3 linked regions of the Homo sapiens genome follow. The protein of the gene in region 1 purifies or fractionates together with the protein of each later gene. This does not show direct contact. Each region holds a gene or a part of one and is shown in the gene's direction. Other genes may lie near its edges.

Region 1 (8,109 bases):
AGAGAAGTAGAAATACAGTCCCACCTTCGGTGAGTTTTCAGGTTCATGTTCAAAAGAATGTTCACCAATGCTGCACCCCTCCCCCTCCTGTAATGTCAGCCTCCCACTGCCCAGGTCCCTTCACTCCCTCTTACGAGGCACTGCCTTCAAATGCATGGCCCCGTTCCTCACCTCCCCCTCCCCTATGAAAAAGATTAGATAAGCTTCTGTACTGCACTGGGTTATAAGCATTCTCCTGTGATTCTCCCATGCTCTGCATGTTAAAATAAAATTGTATTCCTTTTTTTTTTTTTAAGTATAAATTTATTTTTTAGAGGGCCTGCTTTTCATAGTACCACAAAAAATGATTAAATTTGTCATCTTTCAAAGAGCACTTAAGTGCTCTGATCCTGGAAAAATCACTTGAGGATTTAATGTTTTGTTAATAGAATAGTTTATATGGGCAAGTCTTTCTGGTGGACAGTGAAGGGGAATGGCACCCCTTATTCTGAGGTATGCAGGAATTGCGAGCAGCTACCTGCAGGTTGACTACGGCTGGTGGGTTTTTGTTTTTCCTTTTTTTCTTTCAGTGTTTTTCAAATTTGAATCAGATGCTAATACTTCAAGTCTGGCCACATCAGGCCTGGTGTGTCTCTGCCTGGCAACACCTGGCTGGGGCTGGGAGGGGCAGGCATCTCACATGGGCTGTGCTTCCCATTGCCTGCTTCCCGCTGGCCACAGTCTGCACCTGCCCAGTCTGCTCAGCACCCATCTACTGCCATTACTGATCACTGCTTTTATCTGTCACAGTGTCTGGGTGTCAAACTACTGTGGCAATGCCATGTCCTTTTTTTTTTTCCTTTTTTTTTTTGAGATGGAGTCTCGCTCTGTTGCCCAGACTGGAGTGCAGTGGCGCAATCTCAGCTCACTGCAACCTCTGCCTCCCAGGTTAAAGCGATTCTCCTGCCTCAGCCTCCTGAGTAGCTAGGATTGCAGGCATGCACCAACAAGCCTAGCTAATTTTTGTATTTTTAGTAGAGACGAGGTTTCACCATGTTGGCCAGGCTGGTCTTGAACTCCTGACCTCGCGATCCTCCCGCCTCGGCCTCCCAAAGTGCTGGGATTACAGGCGTGAGCCACTGTGCCCGGCCATGTCCTTTTTTTAATATGTAGATAATTAATATTCAGCTGAATTTTCCTCCTAAGAATAAAGGTGCCTAAAGGAAGGAAATAGTCTTAACTAAACCAGAGGTCCATTAATACTGTGAAGTGCTTTTAAAATGATATGTGGGTGTATGTATTTTTCTTGGAGTGGGTTTATAGTTTCAGATTCTAAAGTGGGGTTTGGAGTGTGGTTTCATGTGAAACACCACTGGTTTTACATGAAGAGTTTGTTTGACATTTTGTACATAGTCTTCTGTGAGCTCCAAACCAAGTGTTAGAATGTTTATCCTTTGTTGCAGGCATCCTAATATTCTTAGACTGTATGGTTATTTCCATGATGCTACCAGAGTCTACCTAATTCTGGAATATGCACCACTTGGAACAGTTTATAGAGAACTTCAGAAACTTTCAAAGTTTGATGAGCAGAGAACTGCTACTGTAAGTGTTCATTTATTGTCCAGGCTAATTGTGTTTCCTTTATACCTGTCCTCCATAGCAATGTACCTTTCATCATAGTAGAGTGGGTTTTGTCTTGACGTAAGGATAGCTTAATATCAAATATTTGAAGTGGAAAAATCAAAATAGCTTAGTTGTACCATATGTACAGATAAAGTCTAGAACCAGGTAGAATGTTGTATCTGCTTTTGTGCCTAGTTTGCACAGCTGTTTTCTATGGAAATGTATATAATGTATATAGATAGTCACCCTCATTTTCTTTAATAGATGTTTTATTTTAGAATAATTTTTATTTTATTTTATTTTTTTTAAAGGGACAGGGTCTTGTTATGTTGCCCAGGCTGGACTCAAGTGATTCTCCACCTCAGCCTCCCGAGTAGCTGGGACTACAGGTGCACACCATTGTACCTGGCTAGGATAGTTTTAGATTTACAGAAATTGTGAAGGCAGTACAGAGAGTTCCCATATACCCCACACTGAATTTCCTACTAATTCTCCTACTAACATCTTGCATTAATATGGCACATTTGTCACATTCAATGAACCAATATTGATATATAACTATTAACTCAAGTCCACATTTTATTCAGATTTTCTTAGTTTTTCTCATGATTAAATTGGGCTTATGGGTTTTTGAGAGGGAGATCAGAGGTAAAGTGCATTCTTATCACATACCAGGGATGTAAACTCTTATGACTTTTAACTGTGGATGTCAGCTTGATCTTCTGACTCAGAGAGTGTTTGTCTGGTTTCTCCACTGTAAAGTTACTATTTTTTCCCCTTTCCGTGCTGTATTTCTTCAAAGGAAGTTACTATGAATAGCCCACACTTAAGGAGTAGAGAGTGGATGGAGTATTGCCATAAATTATCTGGAATTCTGTGCCAGAGATAAGGCTGTTCTCCCTTATTTATTTAATCATTTATTTATTTAAAGATGTAGACTCCTGGGTATTTATTTTATCTCTTGAGCTATAATGCAATACTTTATTTTGTGGTTCAGATCATTGCAACTTTGGCCACTGGGAACTTTTTTTCTTTCTTTTTTTTTTTTTTTCTTTTTGAGACGGAGTCTCACTCTGTCGCCCAGGCTGGAGTGCAGTGGCGCTATCTTGGCTCACTGCAACCTCAGCCTCCCAGGTTGAAGCGATTCTTCTGCCTCAGCCTCCCAAGTAGCTGGAAGTACAGGCACCCACCACCACACCTGGCTAATTTTTGTATTTTTAGTAGAGACGGGGTTTCACCATATTGGCCAGGCTGGTCTTGAACTCCTGACCTTGTGATCCACCCACCTCAGCCTCCCAAAGTGCTGGGATTACAGGCATGAGCCACCGTGCCCGGCCTGCTCTTTTTGTTTTACCAGGTTCCTGGGAAAATCATTGCAGTTTTGTCTTGCGTGTGTGTGGTTTTTTTTTGGTTTGTTTTTACACTTCCTTTTTTTTTTTTTCTTTTTTTGAGATGGAATCTCACTCTGTCGCCCAGGCTGGAGTGCAGTGGCATAATCTTGGCTCACTGCAGCCTTCACCTCCTGGGTTCAAGCGATTCTCCTGCCTCAGCCTCCTGAGTAGCTAGGATTAACAGGCATGCACCACCACACCCGGCTCATTTTTGTATTTTTAGTAGAGATGGGGTTTTGCCATGTTGGCCAGGCTGGTCTCTAACCCCTGACCTCAGGTAATCTGCCCGCCTCAGCCTCCCAAAGTGCTAGGATTACAGGTGTGAGCCACCACGCCTGGCCTTGTACTTCCTTACTTTCTGATACAAGATGCTCAGGCCTCATCGTGTATATTTCCTGCTCCAGTCCTAGAATCGAACCACTTCTCCAAGGAGCCCTGTTTCCTTTTCTTGGAGAATGTTATTAGAAACCAAGCTCTGGGCACTTGGTGTACTCATTGCTACTATGGTGTCACTACTTTTAGGCTTTCAGCTGACACAGCAAGGGAATATATGTGGATAGTAATCTGTGTATAGATTTATCCATCTATCTCTTCATTAAGCATACCATGAATTCATACTGATGTCTTCAACTTGAATCCATTACCACGTTTCATTCTAACTTCCTCCTGTTTACCTGTAAACTCCCACTCCAAAAGTGTGAAACCTGGATTTCACCGCCCACCATCCTTTTACTTATTCAATTCCAATATACATGTATAATGGTATCAGAATTGTTAACCAGCTGCCACGTGGGAACCAACTTTATCAATTAGAGTGCTTATGTGCACTTCCTTTGGCCTTTGTCTTATAGATTCCACTCATTTCCAAAGCTGCTTGGATCAACACTTTACCCTCATGCCCTTTAGTAAGGTGGTTTCCTACATTTGTAATGCAATGAGATTTTTTTGTCACAATCTGCATGCCCAGGATGGAATCATTTACATTTTCATATCCTGAGATTGATTTTTGTGTGTTTGCTGTAAAGTTCTATGAATTTCGACAAATACACAATGCCATGTATCCACCATTATGATATAGAGAATAGTTTCGCTGCTCTTAAGAAAAAAAAAATCCTGTGTCTCAACTACTCATCCCTTCCAACCCTTCCATCTCTGGCAACCACTGATCTGTTTACTGTCTCTATTGCCTTTTCCAGAATATCATGTAATTGGAATCATAACAGTATGTAGCTTTTTTAGGTGGGCTTCTTCCACTTAGCAATATGCATTGAAGATTCATCTGTGTATTTTTGGAGGCATGAGAGCTTGTTCATTTCTGTTTATCACAAAATCATATTCCATTATTTCATTATATGGAAGTACCTCAGTTTATTCGTCTACTGAAGGGTATCTTGGCTGCTTCTGGTTTTTGGCAGTTATCATGTTTTGGCTGTCAACATTTGCATGCAGGTTTTTGCGAAACAAGTCTTCAAATTAGTTGGGCACATATATAGGAGTGCTATTGCCAGCTCATACGGTAAGACTATATTTTGCTTTGTGAGGAACTGTCAGTCTTCCAAAGTGATTTTTACATTATATTTTACATTGCATTACAAATGTAGGAAATCACCTTACTAAAGGGCATGAGGGTAAAGTGTTGATCCAAGCAGCTTTGGAGATGAGTGGAGTCTATAAGACAAAGGCCAAAGGAAGTGCACATAAGCACTCTAATTGATAAAGTTGGTTTCCGTGGGGCAGCTGGTTAACAATTCTGATACCATTATACAACGGTAATGTGGTATCGGAACCAATGAATTGAGGTCCTCTTGCTTCTCATAGTTGCCAACATTTGATGTCAGTGTTTTGGATTTTTGTTTGTTTGTTTTGAGACAAGGTCTCACTGTCGCCCAGACTGGAGTGCAATGGCATGATCACCCACCTCAAACTCCCTGGCTCAAGCAATCCTCCCATCTCAGCCTCCCAAGTAGCTAGGACTACAGGCATGTGCTCTCGTGCCTGGCTAATTTTTGTATTTTTTTGTAGAGACAAGGTTTTGCCTTGTTGCCCAGGTCGGTTTCGAAATCCTGGTCTCAAGTAATTCATGCCTCCCAAAATATTGGGATTACAGGAGTGAGCCACTATACCTGGCCTCTTGTTTTGCATTTTAGTTATTCTAATCGGCATGTGGTGGTATCTCATTGTTTTGATTTCTAGTTTCCTAATGACATTTGATGTTGAACGTCTCTTTTTTTTTTTGAGACGGAGTCTCGCTCTGTCACCAGGCTAGAGTGTAGTGGTGCGATTTTGGCTCACTGCAACCTCCGCCTCTTGGGTTCAAGCGATTCTCCTGCCTCAGACTCCTGAGTAGCTGGGACTACAGGCACGTGCCACCATGCCCAGCTAATTTTTGTACTTTTAGTAGAGATGGGGTTTCGCCATGTTGGCCAGGATGGTCTTGATCTCTTGACCTTGTGATCCACCTGCCTCGGCCTCCCAAAGTGCTGGGATTATAGGCGTGAGCCACTGCGCCCGGCCTTGAACATCTTTTTATGTGTTTATTTGCCATCTGTGTATCGTCTTTGAGGCACCTGTTGAAATCTTTTGCTCTTTTTTTTTTTGAGTTTTGAGTTTTAAGAGTTCTTTGTATATTTTGGATGCAGGTCATCTGTCACACATGTTTTGCAAATATTTTCTCCCAATCCGTGCCTTGTATTTTTGTTCTCTTATCTGTGTCTTTCACAAGGCTGTTTTTTATTTATTTTTTTGAGAAAGGGTTTCACTCTGTCAGCCAGGCTGGGGTGCAGTGGTGCGATCTCTGCTCACTGCAGCCTCTGCCTGTTGAGCTCAAGTGATCCTCCTGAGTAGGTGAGACTACAGGTGGGTACCACCACGCCCAGCTAATTTTTGTATTTTTTGTATAGACACGGTCTCATCATGTTGCCCAGGTTGTTTTTTTTGAGGCATTCTTGCTTTGTCACCCAGGCTGGAGGGCAGTGACGTGATCTTGGTTCTCAGCTCACTGCAACTTCTACCTCCTGTGTTCAAGCAGTTCTCCTGCCTCAGCCTCCTGAGTAGCTGGGATTACAGGCATGAGCCACCACGCCCAGCTAATTTTTGTATTTTTAGTAGAGACAGGGTTTCATCATGTTGGCCAGTCTGGTCTTGAACTCCTGACCTCAGGTGATTTGCCCACCTCGGCCTCCCAGAGTGTTGGGATTGCAGGCATGAGCCACTGTACCCGGCCTCCCAGGCTGTATTTTTAATAAAAGTCCAAATGTGTCAGTTTTTTCTTTCATGATTGTGCTTTTTTGCTTCTCCTTTTTTATGTGATTAAAATTACTTGTTTTAAGAAGTTGAAGAGTCTTAGTTTGGGCCGTTTCTTATTGGATTGGCAGCTTGATAAAGCATGTTGAATGGTGGTTACTTTGATTTTTTTCTGTTTCTTGGTGGAGATCTCCGGGTAGTGTGGACATTAGTTCTCTTTTTGGCATTGATGTAAATGGCATTTAAATTCAAGTAATTTTACTTTCAGTATCTGATGAAATCATGCTACTATGGACAAATGGCTCTTTGGTCTTGTCTCTGCAACAATGACATGCTGTTTTAAAGACTTAATCTTAAATGTTTGTGCTTCTCCTAAGTAGAAATAGATCTCTAATTTGCTTTTTTAAATATTAGCTAAACAAATCAGCTTCTTATTTAATTGGCAATTAATATTTCTTTGAGTTCATCTTTTGGGCCAACTTTCTCTTACAGATCAATAAGTAAATCTATGCTCATTAATGGTAGTGACTCTACCTCAGGTACTCACATTTTACCCTTGGTTTTTTTCCTGGTAATCTTGCTTATGGTGGGTTGTAGTTTGTTGTTTCAGGTCAGTTAATCTTTTTCTTCAGTTTCTGATATTGATATCCTACTTTAAAAGATTCACCTTATACCAACACTACAAAATTACACATTATACTACTTCTCTGTTTTCTCTCCTTACACCCAAGGCTTCAATCTAGATGGAGTTTTGGTGTAAGCAGATAGCTGTTTGAAAGAAAATGAAAGATCATTTCTGTCTAGATTCCTTAGCAGTTAGAATGAATACACATGTACCTGTTTTCCTTTTCAGATGAATTCAAATAAAACTAATTGTAGTGACATGTCAGTGACCTATCCATATCTGCAATCTAACAACATGTGAGGTGTGGAGGAAGTGGCAGTGCCAGAGGGCTATCATGAAACTAATAGCTTCTTGTCTGGAAGTGATTTGAGGAGTGAAATCCATTGCCCTCTCAAACTTTAATGTGTGCAATTAAAGCATCAGCAACTCAAAGTTGGTGGTCAGAAGAGCAGCTTTCTTTGTATTTGCCTTCAGTTTATTGTGGTCTGAATTTTGATCTCCGGTTTTGGGCTGAAAGAATGAAAAGTGTTTATTCTGACAGTGACATTTGGTTTTTACTCATCTGTTTAGTAAACCTTTTTGATGTAAAATAATGTTCAATCCTGTCTAGAAATTGCTGTAGAAAGCAAACTCTTCTCAAACTTTAGGCAGAGCTAAATATATTTTTTCAATATTCAAACAGTTATCTGTATGTTAAAATAAATTCTGGGCCAGGCATGGTAGCTCACGCTTGTAATCTCAGCACTTGGAGAGGCCAAGGTGGGAGGATCACTTGAGGTCAGGAATTAGCGACCAGCGTAGGCAACATGGGGAGACTGTCTCTACAAAAAAAAAAAAAAAAAAAAGAAAGATTAAAAATTAGCTGGGCATGGTGGCACACACCTGTAGTCCCAGCTACTCGGAAGGAGGCTGAGGTGGGAGGATTGCTTACGGCCAGGAGTTCAAGGCTGCAGTGAGGTATGATCATGCCATAGCAATCCAGGCTGGGTGACAGAGTGAGACCCTGTCTCTTAAAAATAAATAAGTAAATACATACATACTGGACTTGTTTGCTAAATCTTAGCGATAGGGACTGTAAAACTTTTCTTTTTCTTGCTTTTTTTTGAGACGGAATTTTACTCTTGTTGCCCAGGCTGGAGTGCAATGGCATGATCTCGGCTCACTGCAACCTCTACCTCCTGGGTTCAACCAATTCTCCTGCCTCAGCCTCCCGAGTAGCTGCGATTATAGGCATGCACCACTACACTT
Region 2 (8,109 bases), on another chromosome or scaffold:
CCAAAAGTTAATTTGCAAACAAGTTATTAGGAACACACTTGATAAAATTAGATGCTGATTAATTGGAGATATACTGTATCCAGAGATATATTGAAGGATCCAGAGGAAATAAACAGAGAAGGAGAGGGAGTAAGTCGGCTTCTGGCTCATAAAGGGGTCCACTGAAGATGCTTCCCACCATTATGGTTGCTCCTAAACCATCTGACTCAGATTTCTAGTGGAGGGTAGGATGGGTGTGTTAGCAATCATTTGAGACCCGGGTTGTGAACCAGGAAGGGTTACTATGTATTGTGAAAAGTTCTTGAGATTTGCCGCAGGCCATGAGGAGTGGTAAAGTCAGTTTAAAAATCTGCTGTAGTTCTAGTTAACACGTTCACACCTTCTTCAGTAAAGTGGAATGCTGTTACCAAAGGAAGTATTCGTGTTTTAGAGGGGGGTGTGGTGAAGGTTCTTACAAGTTTGGAAGAGGTGGAAGAAAATGTTGTTACAATTGTGTAGAGTAGTGAAGGGCTTTGGTAAATATCCTGTCAAATCATAGAGTAGTATTTTTAGAGTTGCACCCAGCTGTCCATTAGAAGAGCCAGAGGCCTTGTCTGTTTTGTTCCCTGGTGTCCCCAGTATCCAGCGCAGTTATCCGCATATTCTGTGCCCTCAGATATTTTTTAATTAAGTGAATACTATTGATATGGGAAAAAGAACAGTTATGGTGGTTTATAGCAGTGTTAGTTATTAAAAGCTACCTGATATTTTGCAATGGATTAAAGAGCCAATTTTTGATCAAATAGGGCTCTGGGTAGGAAAGAAAATGAAAATGAAGAGCCAGCTTTCAGTGCTTATTGTTTGGAATTTTTGAGATTCCTTTAAGAAATTGTTTTCTAAAGACTGTCATGAACATTATCGAGTCCCCTAGTTTTTGAGTCTTAATGAATCTTAAGTGTTTCAGATGTTAGTTACTTTTTTAAGAGCACAGTAAGTGCAAAGGTAGTATAGAATAGTGGGAAGTTCTGGATTGACAGACATATATTCTGATTCCATCTGTGTCATTTATTGCTGTTGGGAATGTCACTTAACTTCTCTGGGCGTCAGTTTTCTCATATATACAATTAAGGGCCTATAGTCTTTGACCTCAAGTAGTTTCTCTAGCCTGATTCTGCAAATTTTTAATCATTTCTAATTATGTTATTTGGTATTCATCTCATATAGGTAGATGAACTTTTATTATTTAAAAGAAACAAGATTCTGTGTTGGGTTCTGCTTTTAGCTTATGGATTTTAGACATTGTCCAAAAGTGCTTCCGATGTTGAATGTATGTTGCAAGTGTTATGTAGAAAGAACATGCTTATGCTGTTGTAATTGGCTTAGTGTTGAAATCAAATTGGGTTTTACATTGGGAACTTCATAATTTAGTGTGAAGTCATGAGACTTGAGAATGGTTTGGGGGGAGTTTGTGCAATTTATATAGCTAGCTGTTTCTTACCACCTAATTCTGTAATTTTCTATGATGAATATATAGATAAATTTATAATCAGTGTAACATTGATTTAAGTTATAAGATGATATCAGATTCATACTGGATTGAACTAGAACTCCCAGTAACTTTAGAGGCTACCAAATTATTAACATGTCATTGCTATTTTTAATCTTAATTTTGTGATATCAATACTGATATGCTTTCATCTTTGCTTTTGTATCTAGAAACAATATACCTTTTAAGTTCATATTTGTATCAGATATTAAAAATGAAAATTGTAGCATGAAAGTGGGTAGATAGTAAATCTTGGGTTCAAGCCTGGGTTGTTATTCTTCATTACCCATGTTGTTTCTGGCAAGCTACATAACCCCCCTGAGCTCCAGTTCCCTCATTAGTGAAAGGAAGAAGAGCAACTTTTCTACTTTTCTAACAGACTGTGGATCAAACAATAGTGTATATGAAAAGCATTCTAAAAATGTAAGGGGCTGGTATTAGAATCGTATTGTATTAGAATCCTATTTTATGTCTTTGAAGAATTGGCTTGTGGAGCAGTGGTAAACCTAGTCTGTATTGTCAAGTGCAGAATTTACCAATATCACTGATATGGCAACAGAGAAGGTTTCTGCTTCTGTACTCTGGCTGGAGAAACCTTTCAGCACATGTATCCTGTCTGCCAGTCGGAATAGTCACAATGTTGCAGGGACTTCAGAGGAACCTGGGATGTCTCACATTTATGCCAAGGTCTCTACTTGGAATAGACTTGGCTAGATTTCACCCATTTTCTTATGTTGGAGCAGTGGTAGAAGGTGGTAGGAGCAAGGAGTTCAGCACATTCTGTGTAAAGTTCTAAGGCTGTGTTTTTAAGTAGCAGGTGGCAGTGTCATAGGGTAATGAAATCAATGTACTTATTTAAAAAAGCATTTTCAGAAAGAGAATATATCAGTACATTGCATAAAGTAAAAGTAAATATAGACACAGAGGTATTGTCTTGATGCTGATAGCTGCAGATATTCAGAATGATTCTGTTACAACAGATGGTAGCAAGCTTTTCTGATTTCACTTATCTGGGGTCTAAATCTAATTTCTTTAGTAGTTAATACTGTTTTGTTTTGTTTTTTTTTTTGGACACAGAATCTTGCTCTGTTTGCCCAGGCTAGAGTGCAGTGGCACGATCTCGGCTCACTGTAACCTCTGCCTCCCGGGTTCAAGATTTGGGAAACTTTTGTTTCTTTTTAAAAGATATTTTTATGTATGTATACTTGGTTGCCGTGTAAAATGTATTTTTTCTTTTTAAAAATTATAATTTTCATTTTTTGTAGAGACAGGGTTTTGCTACGTTGCCCAGGCTGGTCTTGAACTCCTGGGCTCAAAGGTAGTCCTCCTGCTTTGGCCTCCCAAAGTGCTGGGATTGTAGACATGAGCCACTGTGCCTGGCCTAAAAGGTTGTTTTTTTCTTTTGGGTTGTGATAAAACTTTGTCGTCGTTGTTTGGGGACATAGTACTTGGGCAATGTGGATAGAATGACTGTCTATAAAATAGTAAGGCATGAAACTAACGAAAACAAAAAGAAAATTGTGAAGGTGGGTTACCTTAAAGCTATTCTGTTAGTGGTGAAATACCTCATAGCTATGTTCTGAACTGTTGATTTAATGAACAAAGCACATGAACTTATGCTGTAATAATATTCTTAAGTACTCTTTTCCCTTAACATGGAGTATGGAGTACTTTAACCACAGAGGTATTGTCTTGATGCTGATAACTACGGATATTCAGAATGATTCTGTTATGACAGATGATAGCAAGCTTTTCTGATTTCACTTACCTGGGGTCGAAATCTAATTTCTTTATTAGTTAATACTTTTTTTTTTTTTTTTTTTTTTTGAGACAGAGTCTCGCTCTGTTGCCCAGGCTGGAGTGCAGTGGCGCGATCTCGGCTCACTGTAACCTCCGCCTCCTGGGTTCAAGTGATTCTCCCTGCCTCAGCCTCCCCAAGTCGTTAATACTTTTATAACTTAGTTGCAGAAGAGAAATATAAATTTATTTAGTTTTCAGAATTATTCATAGATTTATAATCTGGCAAAATATAAGGAAATTATAAGTATATTGATAAATCATGACATAACTGGCAAGAATTGGTATGAAGACAAGATGGTTATAACTTGAAATAGGGTTGTTATTTATTCTATGCCTATCATTTTTCCATGAGATAAACCAAATATTTAATTGTTTAGACTGATTCCACAAATGACATGGGAAGGCAGAGTGTTTATAAAGAGTTTTGGAAGTGATATAGGACACTATAATTTGGAGTTTTAACTTAATCTTATTTTAAATTTCAAAATGAAATTATTTCTGGTTATGAAAGCTACGGAACTTTTTTTTTTTTTTTTTTTTTTAGATGGCGTCTCGCTCTGTCACTCAGGCTGGAATGCAGTGGTGTGATCTCAGCTCACTGCAACCTCAGCCTCCTGGTTCTAGCAATTCTGCTGCCTTAGCCTCCTGAGTAGTTGGGATTACAGGTACCTGCCACCACGCCTGGCTAATTTTTGTATTTTTAGTAGAGACAGGGTTTCACCATGTTGGCCAGGCTGGTTTCGAACTCCTGACCTCAGGTGATCCGCCTGCCTTCGCCTCCCAAAGTGGTGGGATTACAGGCGTGAGCCACTGCACCTGGCCCAGAACGGTTTTAGTGTTTTTTAAAAAAAAAAGTAGAGATGACCTGTAATCCCATCTGGATGTAATGTTTGGTATTTTTGTTTTTTTTCTTATACATATCTATTGAAATAATTTTAAAAAGAACAACTTTCCCTGTAAAATTGATATTCCCTTAATGAGCATTTAGTGTTTATAATATGGATGCATCATAGTTTATAGCAGTTCTGTGTTATTAATGGATATTGTCAATTTTTCTCTTAAAGCAGTACTGTGATGAACTCGTTTGGACATTGAATTGCATTGAATTGTTCTATTATTTTATTATTTCCTTAGGATAAATTCTTTTTTTTTTTTTTTTTGAGACAGAGTCTCACTTTGTCGCCCAGGCTGGAGTGCGGTGGTGCGATCTAGGCTCACTGCAGCCTCTGCCTCCCGGGTTCAAGCGATTCTCCTGCCTCAGCCTCCTGAGTAGCTGGGCGTACAGGCGCATGCCACCACGCCCGGCTAATTTTTTGTATTTTTAGTAGAGACAGGGTTTCACCATGTTGACCAGGATGGCCTCGATCTCCTGACCTCATGATCCACCTGCCTCCGCCTCCCAAAGTGCTGGGATTACAGGCCTGAGCCACTGCACCTGGCCCAGGATAAATTCTTAAAAGTGGGTTTATTACCTGGGCGTGGTGGCTCATGCATGTAATCCCAGCACTTTGGGAGGCCAAGGCGGGTGGATCACCTGAGGTCAGCAGTTCAAGACCAGGCTGGCCAACATGGTAAAACCCCGTCTCTACTAAAAATACAAAAATCAGTCGGGTGTGGTGGCGGGCCTCTGTAATTCCAGCTACTTGGAAGGCTGAGGCACAGAGAATCACTTGAACCCAGGAGGCAGAGGTTGCAGTGAGCCGAGATTAAGCTGCTGCACTCTAGCCTGGGCCACAGAGTGAGACTCAGTCTCAAAAGAAAAAAAAAAGTGGGATTATTAGGTCAAACGGTACGTGTGTTTTAAATTTAGATATACTCAAGATGCCCTTTAGATAGGATGTCTATTTCAAATTCCCATCAACAGTGTATTAGTATTCAATTCCATATATTCTTGCTAGTGATTTGTCATCTTTAGCTTGTTGGGAGTTTAAAGTAGTTTGAAACAGTTTTCTGTTTCTTTTTCAGCATCAGGACTTACTTCCATAGCTTAACTCTTCGGAGGGAGCTGATAAAAATGAAAGATCAGTGACAAGGGAGTGGTGTAGACCAGTGGTCTTCAAACTTTTTGGTTGCTTACCCCATCACTAAAAAATTTTGAGCATTAAGCAGGTGCGGTACATGGTTCTGTGGTCCCATCTACTTAGTTGGCTGAGGCAGGAGAATGTTTGAGGCCAGGAGTTCAAGGCTAAAGTTCACTGTGATTGTGCTTATGAATATAGCCGCTGTACTCTAGCCTGGACAACATAGCGAGACCATCTCTTTAGAAAAAAAAAAAAGATGAGATGGGAAGAATGAAGTCAGAAAAAAAAAATTGATAGGACTTCGTGTTGTTGCTTTGAGAAAAGAGAAAAAGAAAAAAATTGAGCATCAATTCTTAATCCTTAGATATTTGATTTACAAATAATATATGTATAGTAACTGATTATTGTGGACTTTATAAAATACGAACAAAAAATCAACAAGGATGATAATTAAAAATAAAGTTCAGATATTTTCCTTTTTTACCCTGGGGTGTCTTGGTTACTCCTGGAGGTATGCGTGTGCGTGTGTGTATGTATGTATGTGTGTGTGTGTATATATTTAATATATATGTGTATACATTGTATATGTGTATACATAATATATAATATATATGTGTATATATAACATATATATATGTGTATGTATAATATGTATATATTTTTTAGACAAGAGTCTTTTTCTGTTACCGAGGCTGGTGTGCAGTGGTGCGATCTTGGCTCACTGCAACCTCTGCCTCCTGGGTTGAAGTGATTCTTGCGCCTCAGCCACTTGAGTAGTTGGGATTACAGGTGTGTGCCACCATGCCTGGCTAATTTTTGTATTTTTTACTAGAGACGGGATTTTGCCATGTTGGCCAGGCTGATCTGGAACTCCTGGCTTCAAGTGAATTGCCTGCCTTGGCCTCCCAAAGTGCTGGTATTACAGGTGTGAGCCACCGTGCATATGTTATACTTGCTTTGGATACTACTGCTTTAGACTCTTAAGGTTTAATATTGAGCATTTATAGATGCTTGTTTTTGGGCATTTCACTAGTTTTGCTGGTCCAGTTTAGTTGGATCATGAATACCTTTAAAATGTCCCATGCTAGGCTGGGCGCGGTGGCTCAGGCCTGTAATCCTAGCACTTTGGGAGGCCAAGGCAGACGGATCATGAGGTCAGGAGATCGAGACCATCCTGGCTAACACCGTGAAACCCGCCTCTACTAAAAATACAAAAAATTAGCCCAGCGTGGTGGCACGCGCCTGTAGTTCCAGCTACTTGGGAGGCTGAGGAAGGATAATCTCTTGAACCCAGGAGGCGGAGGTTGCAGTGAGCTGAGATTGTGCCACTGCACTGCAGCCTGGGTGACAGAGCGAGACTCCATCTCAAAAAAAAAAAAATGTCCCATGCTCTTGAGAGTCGTATCTGCAATAAGGGTAAAAATAAATTTAAAACATCAGTTCAATACTTTTTGCATTGTTGAGGTGGCTGAATTTGAAAAGGACAAATAGTAGGATAAGAAGCAATGTAAGTACTCTATTTCTTCTAGATATGAAGAATTAATATTTTGTAGAACATATTTTAAAAAATTATGTTTTTTGGAAAGCCGTTTGGCTGTAATATGTATCTCCCTGTTTTTTAAGAGTTAGGTCCTAGAGACTGAGTGAAGGTATGAATAATTGCTACTTGCTCTCCTTTGCTTTCAAAGTACCACAATTAACCTGTCACTAACTCTGTTTGGATTAGCCTGAGCCTATAACAAACTTTCCATGATGATTCTTAGATTAAAAGATAATTTTTTTCTTGAGTTAGAATAAGTTGCTTTTGATCTGTGGCTGCCTGCCCCCCAACCCCTATAAATTATGACATCAGGAAACAAGGCTTTTTGTATTAGAAAAAAATGGGGAAATTAATTTCAGTTATTTCATGTGGGTCATTGGCAGAGAAAGATAATACTAAAATCTTAGAGACTGTGAAAAGAGATTATATTAAGCAACTTGAGTGATTACTTTTTTGCCAGTTAAAAGAAATGAGATAATTTATATTGAAGATGATTGCTATATACAGTGCTTTGCACAAAAGGCCACATATCTCTTTTTACCTTAGGTAACATGATGTATAAGCTACTTTCACATATATCTTCTTAGGTCATCACAAGGATTTGAGATCATCATTTAATCAGGACTGTTGTGACTTGCTTGAGACCACATGCCTAGTGTTTGACATCATATTTCAAGAGGTAGACTGAAAGTTCTGCAGAAATAGGGACTGGTGGCTGTTCTCTCCCTTACTCCCTAGCAGTTAATACATTGCCTGGTACAGAGTAAGCTGTCAATATTTGTGGACTATTTAAACTCCTGCATATTTATTTACACATGTAAATAAGTTATAGCATTGTAAAACCAACAGGTATATTTTCCGTAGTGAGATTGTTCCTTCATCTTATGTGCACAGAAAATATTTTCGTGGAAGAGGTCTTGAATTTTAGATCAACCTTTCACATATCCCTTTACTTTCTCTTAAGATACTTTCATGGTGACAAAAAAAATACTCTTAATGTCATTCCTTTCACTGTGTGTGTAACTCCTGTGGCAAGACTGTATATTTGTATGTATGTATTTGTTTATTTAGTAGGCTGCTATTTATAAAGGAAACATACTCATTAGTTGGTCTTTGCGTACATAATGGTTCCCAAAACATGGACTCCATGGTTTGCTGTGAGTGAATGAAAAAGAGCAGGTATGATTCCCCTCACCTTTGTCATTCTCTCCAGTTTCTTGTAC
Region 3 (7,918 bases), on another chromosome or scaffold:
TGATTCTCCCACCACAGCCTCCCGAGTAGCTGGGGCTACAGGTGTGCACCACCACACCTGGTTAATTTTTGTATTTTTAGTAGAAACAGGTTTTGCCATGTTGCCCAGGCTGGTCTCTAATTCCTGTGCTCAAGCAATCTGCCGGCGTTGGCCTCCCAAAATGCTGAGATTATAGACATGAGCCACCGCGCCCAGCCAGTAAGTTACTCTTAAAGTCTCAGTCTCTTCATCTGTAAAATCTGGATAGCACCTTGCACAGTTATTGTGATGATTCAATGGGTGAAAGAGCACCTCTCACATAGTAGGCACTCAACTAGTGGTAGCTCCTCAAAGCATTCCCAGAGTCCAGGGCCAGCTTCCATTAAACATTTATTATGTGGTGGGCACCGAACTACATGAGGCAATACCAGAATTAGGACTTTTGCAAAAGAGAAAAGAGACAACATTTCAGGGAAATGGATTCACTTTTCAGCAGCTCCTTCCCAAGTTCTACGGAGCCCTTCGACAATCATGGCAGTCATCTCCCTTCCCCAGACGAGTTAAACTATATTCTTAAAAAAAAAACAACAGTCCCCAAATCTCCCACTCTCACTCAGAAATATTCTTTGATCCCAATAACTGTAACTTCCACCTGTCTTCACAGTATTATTCCCCTTTTTCAAAAAATCTTCAGTGACTAACTTCCCATTCCTGATGGGAGTGAAGTCCAAACCTTTGTACATGATGTATTGATGAGGAAAACAGTAGCTACTATAAAAAATAAACCCATTTTAGCAGTGTAACAAAATTGAAATTGATTTATTGGTCAAGTGAAATCTGAAACACATGATCCTGATTAGTGGTCCGCTCTCTGCCACGTGATGATTCAGGGAACCAGCTTCCTTCCATCCTGTGGCTCCACTGTCTTTAACATGTGGCCTTCAGGGTCACTGTGCCTAAGGTCATCTTCATCAAGCTAGACAGGAAAAAAAATAGGAAGGAACTTTTTTGGAGGGTTTTATGGGCCAGACTTGAAAATGGAACACATTAATTAAAGGAGAAGCTTAAAAATGTGGTATAGCTAGGCCGGGCGCGGTGACTCTTGCCTGTAATCCCAGCACTTTGGGAGGCCGAAGCGGGCGGATCACGAGGTCAGGAGATCGAGACCATCCTGGCTAACACGGTGAAACCCCGTCTCTACCAAAAATACAAAAAAATTAGCCAGGTGTGGTGACGGGCACCTGTAGTCTCAGCTACTTGGGAGGCTGAGGCAGGAGAACGGCATGAACCTGGGAGGCGGAGCTTGCAGTGAGCTGAGATGGCGCCACTGCACTCCAGCCTGGGCGACAGAGCAAGACTCCGTCTCAAAAAAATAAAAAAATAAAAAATAAAAATAAAAAAATAAAAAAATGTGGTACAGCTGTGTGTCCAAGAAAAAGAAAGAAACAGGTTCTGATAAACACATAGGCTCTGGCTCACTTGACATTCAAAACTCTCTATACTCTGGCTTAAGTCTGTCTTTCCAATTTTATCTTCCATTATCCAATTATCCAACTGTAGCTTCTTTTTGTTGTTGTTGTTGTTGTTGTTGTTGTTTGTTTTGTTTTTTGAGACAGAGTGTCACTCTGTTGCCCAGGCTGGAGAACAGTGGTACCATTCTGGCTCACTGCAACCTCTGCCTCCTGGGTTCAAGCGATTCTCCTGCCTCAGCCTCCCAAGTAGCCGGGATTACAGGCACGCGCCACCATACCTGGCTAATTTTTGTATTTTTGGTAGAGATGGGGTTTCACCAGTTGGCCAGGCTGGTCTTGAACTCCTGACCTCAAGTGATCCGCCCACCTTGGCCTCCCAAAGTGCTGGGATTACAGGAGCAAGCTACCACGCCTGGCCTCCAACTGTAGCTTTTATTCAGCTTTGCTGCAATCACAACCTACCCCAAAATCTAAGCGACTCACAACAACCAGTGCTGGCTTCTGATTTATGTATATGCAGGTTGTGGGTAAGCAGTAGCTCAGCTCCACAGGTCTTCTCATTCCCAGGCCCAGGCAGAAGGAGCAACTCTCATGTGGATTATTCCCATTCTAGTGGCAGAGAAGAACAAGAAAGTGGAAACTCATGTGTTCAAACATGGCATGAGTCACATCTGTTCACATCCCATCAGCCAAATTATGAAACATGACAAAGCCCAAAGTCAATGACATGAGACATCTATTCCTTCTACAGGAGATACTGCAAGTCACATGGCAGTGGGCAGGAATGAGAGAGGAAATAATTTCAAACAATTAGTCCATCCACTACAACTGCCATTTTCCATCTGGAGTACATGGCAGACATTACTACCCAGCACTCTTTCCTCAGAATCCTCAACACAACATTTCAGGCAGACATTACCAATAATCTGAGTTTGCCTAAATACATAAATAAAGGTTGAAATTGATGTGCTATTATGTGACTCTAGGCTCATTATCCATTCCCACCTCCAAATCTTTGCTTTGGCCTAGAAGAAGCTTACCCTCCCCAGTCCCCATCTTGCCAAACTATCCAAATTTAATCTATCCTTCAAATACTTGAATATTTGAAAGTAATGACTATAATTAAAATAATGAATTACATTTATTATTTTAAAATAATGAATTACATATATTATTTTAAAATAATGAATATTTACTATTCATTCTTTCAATAAAAGTAACTGAATACCTAGCATAGTACCTGCCACATATTTGTTGAATGAATCTGTTTCACATTACTTTGTGCCTTGCACTGAGCACATAAATGCTCAGTGAACATTTGTCTCCTGTTAATGAACCAGCACTGTTCCTTAGAACAATGGGAGTTAGTATCACATGCCAGAGTTTCTGGACTGGGAGTATGGTGACTGCTTGTGCTTAAATCTTGATTCTGCCACTCACTAGCTGGATGACTCCAGGCAAGTCATTAATTGTGCCTCAATCTCATCATGTGTAAAATGGGGATAATAACAAGGCGTATTACATAAGCCTGTTGTATTAAATGGGAAAATTCTTAGCATAGTTTGAACAGATCATAAGCACCCAAGAAATGGAAGTTGTTACCATTTTTAGCTCCGAGACTGTTTTCTCGTAGACCTTTATTTTGGGCGGAAGACAAGAGCCAAGAACTCTTGAGACTTGGGTCCTTGAACAGACCTCACTCTTAACCCACTCCAGACCTTGAGCTACCTCCTCATCCAGAAACTGGTTCCCTAACTCATAAATCCTGACTAATGACACAGACACATCACCTTAATGTTTGTGCAGCCCAGTAACTAATTTTTAAGTGCCTGGAGATCTTCAGATGAAAGACACTGAGGGCAGACACCGCATTCAGTCATAAAAGCAAAACACTACCAAAAAACTTGGAAAAGGCAGAAGCTCCATAACTTAGTGCAGTAGAGAATTAAAGCAGGCACCTAGGAAGAGGAAATCAATCCTTAAGACTGTAATCCTTTAATGCAGAGCCAGAGAAAGAGGTAATTCTGAATGCCTCCGACTACAGGGATGGAGAATAGCGAGAGGGGGGACAGGATGCCCAAGTCTATAACGTGACTTGGGGTGTGGGAGACGTGTCAATCTTTCACCTCTCCTAAATAAAAACCGGAACGTCAACATGTATTGTTATCCTAATTAATTTAAGCCACTTAAAAGGCTTGGGCAAACAGGCCCCATAAGTGGCTTGTTTGTGAATTGTGACAGGTCCTGAATTATGCCAAGCTCCCTTTTCAATTTCATTCTTCTCATTCCACCGCTCCTACCACCACCTCAGTCAATTGTATCCTCTTCCTAGACCCAGAAGCCACTCTGGGGGAGCCCAGTCCAGATGTGGATATGGTCAGGCCCCTTAGCACTGAAATCCTCAAGTTGGAAAAAAATGGTCAGCTGTGCAGAAGACATCATTCTTACAAGGTCTGTCCCTGAGATTGAAGTAAAGAAGAAACTGCTATACCCCAGCTATCAGTTTCCCATCCCCAAAATGGTGGGTAGCTGTGGTGTAGTGGCAAGAATATATGACGTGGAATTAGCCAAGGCTAATGCAGTTCTACATTTCATAGCTTTGACACTTCACACCGCCTCCTTAACCGTACTTCACTTTCTACATCTATAAAGCGTGCATAACGCTTAACGCCTATCTCACAGGTGGGTGCGAAAAGTACAGGACGGGACGCAACAGAAACCGCTCTGCCCACCGTTAAAGCGTTATATGGAAGGCTTTAGAGCCGTAAATCCTCCCCAGCCCCCAACAACGCACGTTACAAACCAGCAGCCACCCCTAATGCAGCCGGCCCCCTCCTAAGGGATCATGGGCCTTGAAGTCCTTTGCTGGCCACACCCTCGTTTTCTGTCATAGGAGTGAGAACTACGCCTCCCAGGATGCCGCGGTGAGGCCGCCGTCACGGACGCCCTCTTCCCCGCCCTCCTTGCGCGCAGCCTTCTGGGATGTATAGTCCTAGATCCGAGCACGCAGCGGCAAAAGGGCGCAGAAGAACCACAAACCCCAGAAGCCCTCGCGCCCACTCTTCTCCCTCCCCTCCAGAAGTCGGAGTGCTGTTTTTGTTGTTGGTGAAAGGTGAGGGGAACAGCTGATCCGTCTGTTGGGTAAGAAACTTGGCCTAATTGGGGGCGATCTTATGGGAGGGGAGGGTCACCCCACTTTCCAGTTTGGGGAAGGATAACGTAAGGGAACTGTCGAAGGGGAATACAGGAGCGTTTGGGTTGTAACCCTTTCCGTACTGGAGAAGCCACCCCCGCTGTTTGGGGAGTTCTTGGTTTCAAGGGGACTCTGATTGGGGGTGGGGGGCGCCCCCTCGTCGTCCTCTCCTTCTTCTCAATGCGTCTCTATAAAGCTGATCCCTTCAAGGGAGCTGAAATCTGCTTATTCGCTCCCAGGCAAGACGTGTCCCCTACACGTCTTCCCTCTCTCCCCTACGCAAATCCAAAGGCCTTTACGACGCTGAATCCCTGGGGAGGAAGGGGGACCTTCCAAGGTGTAGAATGTCAAGGAACTCTAGAGCCCTACAGAGTAGGGGATGGGACACCCGCTCTCCGCCCCATCATGTGAACATCTGAATCAGGCTACACACCTACATCTTAGGTGCCCAAAACTTTCTTTCGGACATGAAGAACGTTTACAGCTGTTACGGATTTTCTTTGTGGGGTGTATTTTAGGGTTCTCCAGGTATATCTTTGGGGACAATTTACCCCCACCCTTAGAAAGCTGGAAGAATTGCATTTGGAGAAAACATGGATTAGTTTCAACCAGGAATTTTTCAGGGAGATGAACATTAAAAAAAACTTTTTGTTCTACCTATTTGGGGGACAGAAGTTGCTCCTTTTTGTGTTGCTGGCTCACCTTTATCCACTGAGTTTCTGTTTTCTTTTAAAGTTCCTGTCCCCTGGACTTCAGCCTGGTGTGGGTTTGTGATGTTTGGGGGCGTGCATATGACTAGTGACAATGGCTGGTTGGACATGTCAGCTGTGAGTGACACAGGAAATAGATTAGTGGGCTGGAAAGGAGTGATGAATAAGAGGGCCATCTCACAGCCCTGGACTGAGGAGTTCTTTTGATCGTTATTATTGTTATCTGTCCTCACCCCACCCTCATATTTTCCAATTAACTCTCCCCAGCTAACTTGGAACACCCCTTCCTCTCAACCCCATCCTGTAGTGTGTCTCCAGCTACCAATACAAACAGATGGAAGGATGGAGGCTGAGGGGAGCAGAGAGAAAATGAGGAGAGAAATACTAAAGTGAAACCAGTAGGTTTCTAGTCCTGCTGCAGGCACAGTCTGGAGAGAAGAATGTTAGGTTCTTTTTGAACTATCTCCCCTTTCCTCAACGTTAAATATACATTTCCACTTCTTGGGGCCCCTTACTTCCCACTTTCTAGTCTGTTCCCTGCCCTGGGGTGGGGCTTTCCTGGCTCCAGGCCCCCACATTCCATCTCCCCACCCCCACCACGTTCCTGCTAAGCGCCTCACTCCACCCTTGAAGTTGCCGCCTCCAGAATTCTTGACTTCCTGGAATAATAAGTCAAGGGACAGAACCTGTCTTTCCTTATATCCTCCCCTTCCCTTTGTCTCTTGGATGCCAGCAGAAGCTTTCTGCTTCCCTAGAATTCATGGGGGTAGGCAGCTCAGAGAGATGAAAAGAGCTGAGAGCTCAGGAGCCTAAGGATTTGGGCTCAGTTCCCCTCGACCCCCAGCCATATTCTAGCTCTGAAAACTCAACCATTCCTTTCAGAGATTAGTTGCTGCTTTCTGATGTCATAACTCATTCCTGGATACAGCTGGGTCAACAAGCTTAGGAGTAGGTAAGGACACCTCTCTCAATGAGAGGGCCCCACACCTCAGTTGGATTTTGTATTCAAGAGCCAGGATGTGTGGGAGATGGGATGGAGAAATGGAGGCTGTCGACCAAGTCGCAGTATCCCAGGCTCTGTCCCCGTCAGTGTCCTTTTGGGAGCAAAATTAGAGAAGTCTGAACCCTCAGAAGGGTCTATGAGCCAGAGCGGGTACAGTGTGAGACAGGATGGGGACGGACTTGGAAGGCCAGACCTACGTCCTAGAGACTAAGAGTGATACCTCAAAAATGTCCCGTAACCCTCAGGGACTAGAAACCAGGTATGCCTTATCTCCAGGTGTAGTGGCAGGGGCTGTGAGTGTGTGGTGCTGGAGCTGTGGGGGGAAGGAGGTGGACTGGAAAGACTTTAGGCTATCAACCCTTTCTTTCATAGGAGGACAGATATCTCAAGGCCAGGATGGAAGAATCACCACTAAGCCGGGCACCATCCCGTGGTGGAGTCAACTTTCTCAATGTAGCCCGGACCTACATCCCCAACACCAAGGTGGAATGTCACTACACCCTTCCCCCAGGCACCATGCCCAGTGCCAGTGACTGGATTGGCATCTTCAAGGTATCTCTGGAACCCCTTTTGGCTTAGGTTTATGGGCTGTGAGTTGGTTGGAATAAGGGGAATGATTGGGCTCTTGGATTCTCAACCTCAGGTTGATAGAGAAGAAGAGAGAAAGATGTCACAGATGACAGAGGCCGCCTGTATAACCAAAGCACATATTTTCTCCATCTTAGCCTTGTTCTTTACTGACACATTAGTGTCCCTCCACTTTCCCTTTCTCTTGTCATTGTTGCCACTGTAGCTCCATCCTGCCCCCCTTATTCAACCCCTCAGCCCTTTCTTCCATCCATAGAAGGTAGTTCCATGACCATACCTTTCTCCAACCTTGGGCTTTCACAGGTGGAGGCTGCCTGTGTTCGGGATTACCACACATTTGTGTGGTCTTCCGTGCCTGAAAGTACAACTGATGGTTCCCCCATTCACACCAGTGTCCAGTTCCAAGGTACAAGGGAAGATGGAAAATTGGGAGAGAGGAGCCAAGGGAGTGGAGGTTTGAAAGAAGGTAGTGGGCTCAGAAACATTAAAAGTTAGGCACAAAGGACAAGGAAAAATAAACGAAAATAAATATAATGAGAATATATCCAACAGCGCTCAGCGGATAGAGAATCACGGGATTATCGCAGAATCAGGGACATAGAAACAGAAGGAACTTCAGAGGGCATCTAGTCCCCTGTCCTACCCAAAGAAGGAAAAATGGGGGAGTAAGGAAGAGGGAAAGGTAGAATTATGTGGTGAGAAGAGGGAAAGACCTGGGTTCAAATCTCACCTCTAACACTTACAAGCTGTTTGGCCTTGGGCAAATTACATAACCTCCCTGTGTCGGTTATCTTAACAGTAAAAGGGGATGCCTGGCTTATAGGGACATTACGAGGATTTAAAATGAAAGCTGCAGGCCAGGCGTGGTGGTGCATGCCTGTAGTCCCAGCTACTCACAAGGCTGAGGCAGGAGAATCTCTTGAACCCGGGAGGCAGAGGTTGCAACAAGCCAAGATCGCGCCACTGCACTCCA

Evidence for each region. Proteins that work in one complex are often made in the same cells at the same time.
Region 2: the proteins of AURKA (region 1) and MTMR3 purify together in Homo sapiens (affinity purification with mass spectrometry; 5 studies listed by BioGRID and IntAct, with this or other methods). This does not show direct contact.
Region 3: the proteins of AURKA (region 1) and CALCOCO1 purify together in Homo sapiens (affinity purification with mass spectrometry; 5 studies listed by BioGRID and IntAct, with this or other methods). This does not show direct contact.

Annotation. Positions count from the first base shown.
Region 1 is NC_000020.11:56,374,905-56,383,013, reverse strand, and holds part of AURKA (aurora kinase A), read left to right. Parts: coding exon 1-29; intron 30-1,442; coding exon 1,443-1,581; intron 1,582-8,109. UniProt on the Homo sapiens protein: Mitotic serine/threonine kinase that contributes to the regulation of cell cycle progression.
Region 2 is NC_000022.11:29,885,440-29,893,548, forward strand, and holds part of MTMR3 (phosphatidylinositol-3,5-bisphosphate 3-phosphatase MTMR3), read left to right. Parts: intron 1-8,109. UniProt on the Homo sapiens protein: Lipid phosphatase that specifically dephosphorylates the D-3 position of phosphatidylinositol 3-phosphate and phosphatidylinositol 3,5-bisphosphate, generating phosphatidylinositol and phosphatidylinositol 5-phosphate.
Region 3 is NC_000012.12:53,724,078-53,731,995, reverse strand, and holds the start of CALCOCO1 (calcium-binding and coiled-coil domain-containing protein 1), read left to right. Parts: upstream 1-4,543; 5' UTR 4,544-4,592; exon of another isoform or gene 4,593-5,796; intron 5,797-6,236; exon of another isoform or gene 6,237-6,306; intron 6,307-6,729; 5' UTR 6,730-6,753; coding exon 6,754-6,909; intron 6,910-7,248; coding exon 7,249-7,351; intron 7,352-7,918. UniProt on the Homo sapiens protein: Functions as a coactivator for aryl hydrocarbon and nuclear receptors (NR). Recruited to promoters through its contact with the N-terminal basic helix-loop-helix-Per-Arnt-Sim (PAS) domain of transcription factors or coactivators, such as NCOA2.